2 linked regions of the Homo sapiens genome follow. The protein of the gene in region 2 interacts with the protein of the main gene of each other region in a biochemical or structural test. Each region holds a gene or a part of one and is shown on either strand. Other genes may lie near its edges.

The links. The genes of interacting proteins can lie anywhere in the genome.
Region 1: the proteins of F11 (region 2) and SERPINA5 form a complex in vitro, tested with the Homo sapiens proteins (one study listed by BioGRID).

The regions. Positions count from the first base shown.
Region 1 is NC_000014.9:94,580,009-94,584,225, forward strand, and holds the start of SERPINA5 (plasma serine protease inhibitor preproprotein), read left to right. Parts: upstream 1-1,417; 5' UTR 1,418-1,482; intron 1,483-1,606; 5' UTR 1,607-1,702; intron 1,703-4,217. UniProt on the Homo sapiens protein: Heparin-dependent serine protease inhibitor acting in body fluids and secretions. Inactivates serine proteases by binding irreversibly to their serine activation site. Involved in the regulation of intravascular and extravascular proteolytic activities.
Region 2 is NC_000004.12:186,283,189-186,286,684, reverse strand, and holds part of F11 (coagulation factor XI isoform 1 preproprotein), read right to left. Parts: intron 2,594-3,496; coding exon 2,425-2,593; intron 1,048-2,424; coding exon 872-1,047; intron 588-871; exon of another isoform or gene 419-587; intron 271-418; coding exon 175-270; intron 1-174. UniProt on the Homo sapiens protein: Factor XI triggers the middle phase of the intrinsic pathway of blood coagulation by activating factor IX.

The DNA of each region.
Region 1 (4,217 bases), on a different chromosome or scaffold from region 2:
TGTTTCTGGATATCCTACAGTAGCAATCCCACCTGTTTCTGGATATCCTACAGTAGTGATCCTGCCTGTTTCTGGATATCCTACAGTAGCAATCCCGCCTGTTTCTGGATATCCTACAGTAGTGATCCTGCCTGCTTCTGGATACCCAGAAGTGATCATGCCTGGTTCTAGATACCCAGTAGTGATTGTGTTTCCTCTAGATACCCAGTAGGTATTGTGCTTGCTTCTAGAGATGTAGTAGTAGCTGGACTTAGCTCTAGATACCCAGTGCTCATCTCTAGACTGGGCTGAGATCAGTGTCTCCCTTGAAGGGTTATTGTAAGGATGAAAAAAGATAATGCGTTTAAAGCACTTGGTGTAGTAGGTGGTCTTTTTAAAAGTGTGAATAAATACTAGTTCTTATTATTTCTGTGGATATCCAACAGCCACATAATTGGGCCCCAAAGCCATGAAGAAGGAAGAGGAAATGTCTTAAAGGTTGTCGATGGACAGTGTTTGCTGAACATCAAAATCACTTTCCAGGTATTACCTCTGATTTGCTCTACCAACTCCACACCCCACCTGCAGCCACATAACCTTCCATGATCACGGCCATGCACAACACACCATGTCCCCCAGGCAAGGGGACCTTAGAAACATAACCAGGCTTGAGACAGCACTCTGCACCGGTGTCTTGGAAATGCTCTTAAGAGTGTATGGCTGAGTTAGGGAACCAGGATTTCAAAGTAGAAAGGGAGAATCTACCCAAGCCCATAGAAATCCTGAATCCACTCCTTTCTCAGCAACAAGCACTGGCCTGGGAGTCAGCCACTTATGCACCAACCCCACTCTGCCCCTAATTAAATGCATGACTTTGAAAATTCCCCTCATTCTTCTGAGCCCCAATTCAGTGATTGGTGCAATCACAGGCTTGGCTACAGTGACCCATTCATTGCAGGCATGGTGAGTCTCTCAATCCCTCTCATTTCCACTAGAATCTAACTGTTGGGATCTATGACCCAGTCAGCATAGCAGGCCTGTGGGGAGCTCTCAGGTTCAAGCATATGCCCCCCCTAATCTACAAGAAATTAGCTGCAGAAAACCAAGGAATAGAACCTGGAAAAAGAGAGGGTTTGCTAGAGCTGTCCCTTTCCCTGTCTCTGGAATGCCAACAATAGGGAGGCTCTTTGGTCTTGTCTCTCAGGAGTGCCCATGCCATTCCAGGAAAATGATGGCCCAGCTGGTGGTGTAAGGCTTGGGGGGCAGCGAGTGGGCATCGTGGTGAAAGCCTCGGGATCAGGGAGCTGCGTCTGCAGGCAGGCCTGCTGGCCGGAAACCTGCCAGGAAAGGAAGGGGCTGTCCCGGGGCGGGGCCAGGGAGGGGTGGAGACAGGGCCGGCTGTGGTCAGTGACAAATGCTGGCTGCAATCCAGCCAGCCCTCTGCCCTTTCTGAGCCCGAGGGACTGCCACCTCCACTGTGTGCACACTCAGCTACGGGACACAGTAAGTACCGATGCCGCAAAGGGAGGTCCCCAGGGCTTGAGGGCATGTGAGGCGAGGAGAGGATGGACTCTAGAGTTTTGGGGTTTGGGGTCTGCAAAGCTCTGAAGGAGTCTCATCTCTGCAGTTTCAGGTATCCAAGGCAGCAGAGGTGAGTGGGTCCCCCGAGCTCTGTGACCTTATGCTCCACACTAACTCTGGCAGAGCCTCCGTTTCCTCATAGGTAAGATGGAAATAATTACACCCTCTGGATGGTGTGACTGAAGATTAAATACAGCGGGTGCTCTCACTCAGCACATCTGGCCATGTCTGCAGACACATTTGGTTGCCACAACTGGAAGGGGGGTGGGGGTTAGTGACATCTAGAGGCCAGCGATGCTGCTGATGATCCCACAATGCCCAGGACAAGATCACAAAGCATCATCCTGTTCAAAAGGTCAACAGGATCAAGGTTGAGAGACCCTGAAATAAGGCCATGGGGACAAAATGTCGGCTGGATAGGAGGTGCTCAGTAAGTGGCAGCTTCTGTTGTTTTCTGTGCCTGGAGTCTTGGGCCTTTAGAAATCAGGAACAATGATCCAATATTATCGGCTTCCGTGAGATAAGGGCATCTTGCCTGGAGGCTGCCACCCAGGCCGGTCATGGCAGCTGCTCATGAAGGACAGTAACAATTTGGCAGTTTGTTAAATGAACAAAATGTAGAAATAAAGTAAGCAGAATTTTTAGTTTTTCTGAAGGTAGGGCTTTTGGCCAGATATGCAGCAATAAAAGAGCAAACTGCTTCCTTGGGCCAGTGTCCTTGCTCATAGATCAGGAAACCGAAGCATGAAGAATACAGGCGGCAGATGCCTGAAGGTAACGGACGTGTTCATGGTGCTGACGGTGATGATAAGTGACAGATGTAGACTCATCTCCAAACTTGTCAGGTTATAGACATTAAATATGTGCAACTTTATGAATAGCAGTCATGTCTCAATCAAGTGGTTTTAATAAAGAAATAATAGGAAGCCAGAGCTGAGAGACAGGGAGGGAGTTGTTCAAGGTCACCTGGCAAGTGAGCTCCGGGGCGGGGAGAGCTCAGCTCTGGGTGGCCAGCCTGGCTTTTTCCACTGCTCAGTGTCCAGCTTGCAGTCTAATGTCTCTGAATTACAGAGAAGGAGACTGGTCAGTTCATTCATTCATTCATTCTACAAAGGTTTATGGAGCATCTCTCCTGACTGCAAGCTCTTGAAGGTGAGAGCAGCACAAATGAGGGTCCCATGGAGAGAGAGGCCGGAATGAAAAATGTCAATGACAAATGCATATATAAAGGCACATGTGTAATTGAAAGAGCTTTGAGAGAAAGAGTCAAGGGACTGTTCCAGAGAATAGCCATGGAAGGGGAAAAGGTCCAGTGTGATAAGGTATTGCAAAGAAGTGACATTTAAGCAAAAGCCTGCAGCCTATGCAGAAGTTGGCCTCAGTGAGAAAGGTTGGGGGAGGGTTCCAGTAGAGAGGGAAGGTATGCAAAGGCCCAGAGTTAGGACAGAACTTGCTGTGTTTGAGAAACTGGGAAAAGAAGAGTGAGCCTGGGGGTATCACGTGATCCAGGGCAGAGCAGGTCCAGGCCAGGTGCAGCCAGGTCACAGCAGCCCTAGTGGGTTAGAGCACAAATCAAAGTTTAGCATTTATCTGAAACACAGGAGTTGGCCATGAGTTTCTTAGGCGAGGAAGCGCTGTGACCATATTTATGATTGAAGGAGATTCTTTTATATGCTGTATATAGAAAGCCTTTCAGGGCAAAGAAAGGAAGCTACTGGGGTAGCCCTGGGGGAGATGAAGGGAGCTTCCACTGGGGGCAGTAAGAAAGCCAGGGAAAGGCGGCAGCTTTAAGACCTGTTTTGGAGATAGAACGGACAAGCTTTGCTGATGGGCTGGAGTGGAACAGGAAGTCAAGATTACTTCTTCTGGGAAGTTCTGTTCCTGGGTCTTTAGGATCTAGAGGAAGCTGTGACTTTGTCTCTCATCTCTGCCTGGGCTCCAAGCCTCACATCCCTTTTTGTAATTAGAAGATATTGGACAGACCGTCCTCACTAACACAATTCCCACAGCTGAGTCCAGGGTAGAACTGGGCAGGACTTCACTGCCCAACACGGGAAATATCAGTCAGCAGATTTGGGTTTCGGGGATGGTGGTGGGCCAGCGGGAAGACTGACCAGGGCCTACCCATCACATCCCCACCACCTCCCACCTCAATTCACCTTGGCCTGAGATGACAGGTGAACATGACTGATCCTCTCTCTTCCCTCTGCAGAAACACTAAAGCCAGGGACCAGGAGAGGGGCAGCCCAACCAAGCTTTCAAAGCACTCAGTAGAGGCTGGTCTGGGGGATGGGAGGCTCCCAGGGCTTCACCTGTCTCTGTCAAAGCCATGTATTTCCACCAGAGGCCCAAGAGTGCGATGGCAAACCCTGGATTTGAAACTAAGAAACGTAAAACAAGCACTGAGGACTCCACTGCCTCTTGAGTGACCTCTCTGACCCTCTGTTTCTTCTGCACTGTTAGGATAATGATACTAACTCCATGTTGTTGTAGAGAAGTATAAATGAGCTAATACAGGTGAACCGCCTGGGGATACCAGGAGGTGAGGTCGAGGAGGAACGAGGTATCACTCCTCAGAGCCACTCAGAGACAGGCTGTGCACGAGTCAGAGGAACCTGGATTTTAATTCCGGTTCCATCACTCAGTAGCTGAAACAA
Region 2 (3,496 bases):
CATATGAGGCACCAGCCTCACTTGGGTGATTTTTGCCTCTCCATCTTTATTAATCCGCTTCCTGCAACTGAGTAGTGTGACTCGAGTTGTGCTTCAGCTACATGACTTGACAGGGCAGAAAAGGTTCCGCTCTTCATTTCTAGGATGGAGCACATATAACAACATCATTTTTACCTCTTAGTTTTCTGTACCCCCATCCAGTCACCCAGCAATCAGTGTATATTACATTTCTATCTCCTTTGGAAGGCAGGCATATGGGTCGTTGAGAATCTAAATTTAAAAAATCGTGGTTTAAATATGAGACGCAAAATATATCCTCTTTTCCAGAAGAGACTCTTCTTCCACTGTACATTATCTGTGTTTTCTTTGTTTACTATATTCATTTTTTGCCTTGTTGTCGTGTATTTTCCTCCCTCAGGTTCAGCACGATATCGCACATGTGCCAGGATGAGAGGGCGAGAGAGAGACAAGCCTCACCCTCACCGCTAACTCCTCATCCAACTCACTTTGATCCTGCACAAGTTGCTTAATTGTTCTAACCTTCAATCCTTCATCCCTAAATTATCTTTAATAAATTATCTTTAGACTAAATTATCTTTACTATTCCAAAGTATTATGAAATTATGTCATTCTATGCACCTGAAGAAGACTCAGGAAAACGTATCTCTTTACCCACATTCCCAAAATAAGTTTCAATAGCCAGGAAAGTGTGTCAGCCTTAGCAGAGTGAATGACTAGCATTCCAGGCCCTCTCCCTTTCATGATGATAACGCATGGAGAGATTGGCAGGGTCAGGCCGTAAGTCTAGTAGTGTTAAACATTTTATCCAGTTCACCATTGGAGACAACTTTCCGGATAAAATTCTCCGTACCTGTGTAATTCACTGTGGTTTCCAGTTTCAACAAGGCAATATCATACCCGCTTTCTGCCATTTTATACTGATCATGGATTATTATTTCTTGAACCCCAAAGAAAGATGTGTCCTCTTTTATTTCAGATTGATTTAAAATGCCACTGTAGACACGCAAAATCTTAGGTGACTCTACCCTAAGGAGCAAACAACAGAGGGAAAGAAATTTCCTTTACTAAAAATAATTCCCAGACATTGTGAAGTGTGTGGCTGTTTAATTATTACTAATATTTTCTGCCAATGATGGACATTTAGGTAGAAAAAAGTGATTTTATCCTAAGATTTTTCGGGATAAAAAACATATTCACCCTATAAAGAAAATCCATTATACACAAAAAATGAATGAGCACTCCCTCCGTGCTCCAACACACACACACGCACACACCCGCACACGCACACACAGACACGCACACACACGCACACTGCACAGACACACACGCACACACACACACGAAGACCGCTGGACTCAGTCTCAATCTCGCCAGTAACTAGCTGTGACAGAAACTAGGCTTTCTGCTACTCCATTCCCATATGTGACAGGTAACGGGAACTCTTGGCCTCACATGTGTTCTTGAGTTTAACATGAGTGTGCTGCAGATTGATTAAAAAAGAAAACCAAAACTAAAAAGCACACAAAACTGTGTCTGGAAACAACTCGGAGGATACTGAAGTAGCAAACGGAAAGTTTGGCCAACTTAACTTCCCTGGAATATATATACCCCCAGCTGGAGCCTTTTTGTTTGGCCAACGCTGAAAGTGACCTAAGTAAGGAATCCAATGTGAGGATGCATACCGAACTCGTTCTGTATTTTATTTATTTACTTAGAGATAGGGTCTTGCTCTGTTGCTCAGGCTGGAGCACAGTGGCACTGTAGTAACTCACTGCACCCTTGAACTCTTGGGCTCAAGCAATCCTCCTACCTCAGACTTCTGAGCAGCTGGTGCTACAGGCACACAAAACACCATGCCAGGCTAGTTTTTAAATATTTTTTAGAGACGAGGTCTCACTATGTTGCCCAGGCTGACCTCAGACTCCTGGCATTGAGCAATCCTCCCACCTCAGCCACCCAAAGTGCTGAGATGACAGGCGTGAACCACCACACCTGGCCACTTTCTGTATTTAAACACACACGCACACACACACACACACATATTAGAAATTTGATTCAGACAATGGTAAATCCTCTGTGAGTTTAGTTCCGGGCACAGTGCACAGAGCGAGGCACAGAGGGAGGTATGCTCTTGCAGGGAATAACATGAAGGCCCTTGGGGATGTGAATGCGGTTAAATGGGAAGCGGAATAGCAGGCAGTCAAGCAGCCTTGTACCTGCACCTGTTCTGATGCTGGGAGACCATGAGCTCTTCCTTTTTGCGTTTTTTACCACTGAAGCAATTAATTAATTTTGCAAATAAGACAATCTAATTGGTTAAAGTATTTATTTCCTAACATGCTAGTAATATTTTTTATAAATGTGTGAAGAAGATGAACTAATAAAAACAGCCGTGGTACTGACCCATAGAAACAGTGAGCGGCTGTTAATATCCACTGGTTTCCAATGATGGAGCCTCCACACAGGTGTCTCTGAGTGGGTGAGGTTGTGTGCAGGGTCACCTGCCACGGCCACTCACCACGAACAGACGCAGTTCCTCCAACGATCCTGGGCTTGATTTTGGTGGTACACTCTGCAACAGAAGCATTGTGATGAGCAGCTTCCTACATCTTCCTTTCCATCAGTAATTATGCTCCTTCAGGAACAAGAAGAAAACCTTTCCTCAAGTCAATAGTTTATCATGACCCTGAGTTACAGAGACTTTATAATCAAGCTGCCAAAGCAAAACATGCACATGAAAAATGGAATTGACTAAGTCATCTTGTAATTACACACCCCTAAGAATGTAGCCCTCCTTGTGTGGTACTACAAGGCTGTCTTACCCTCCTTCAAATGATAACGTGAATGGTGTTTTTAAACCAGTGGTTGTCAAGTGCAGTCTCCAGACCAACAGCGTCACCTGGGAACGTGTTAGAAATGCACATTCTTCAGCCCAACCTCAGATCCAGTGAATGAGAAACTCCAGCCTGGAAGCTCAGCCATCTGTGTTTGAACCAGCCCTGCTGGCGTTTGAGAACTGCTCTTAGAAAGAAAAGGCAAGCACCTTGCCCGCAGGCTGCAGCCATTGTCCAGTTCCTGCCCTGTCCCAGTGACTCTGCTGACCATGATCCCAGTCACTCCTGCTCCACCCACGTCCAAAGTAAGACTGATCTGCTATGAACTTCCTCTGACCTTTGGCCTTGTTGACAGTTTGGGATTCTCTGGGGTCCTTGGTACTTTTCAGGGACTTTGACTCAGGCTCATCCCTCTGTTTCTTTTCTCTTGGGGCTGCCTAGACAGGACAGTGCCCTCTATTTCTACTTACTGGATGCCCGACACAAGAACCCACCCTCCCGGTTGGAGCCATGGAACACAGATGGATGGGAATAGGGTGTTCGTAGACAGCAGTATTCTAGACACACACACACACACGTGCACACAAACACACGCACACATACATGCGCACACACACGCACACACCTATGCGACTCAAAAT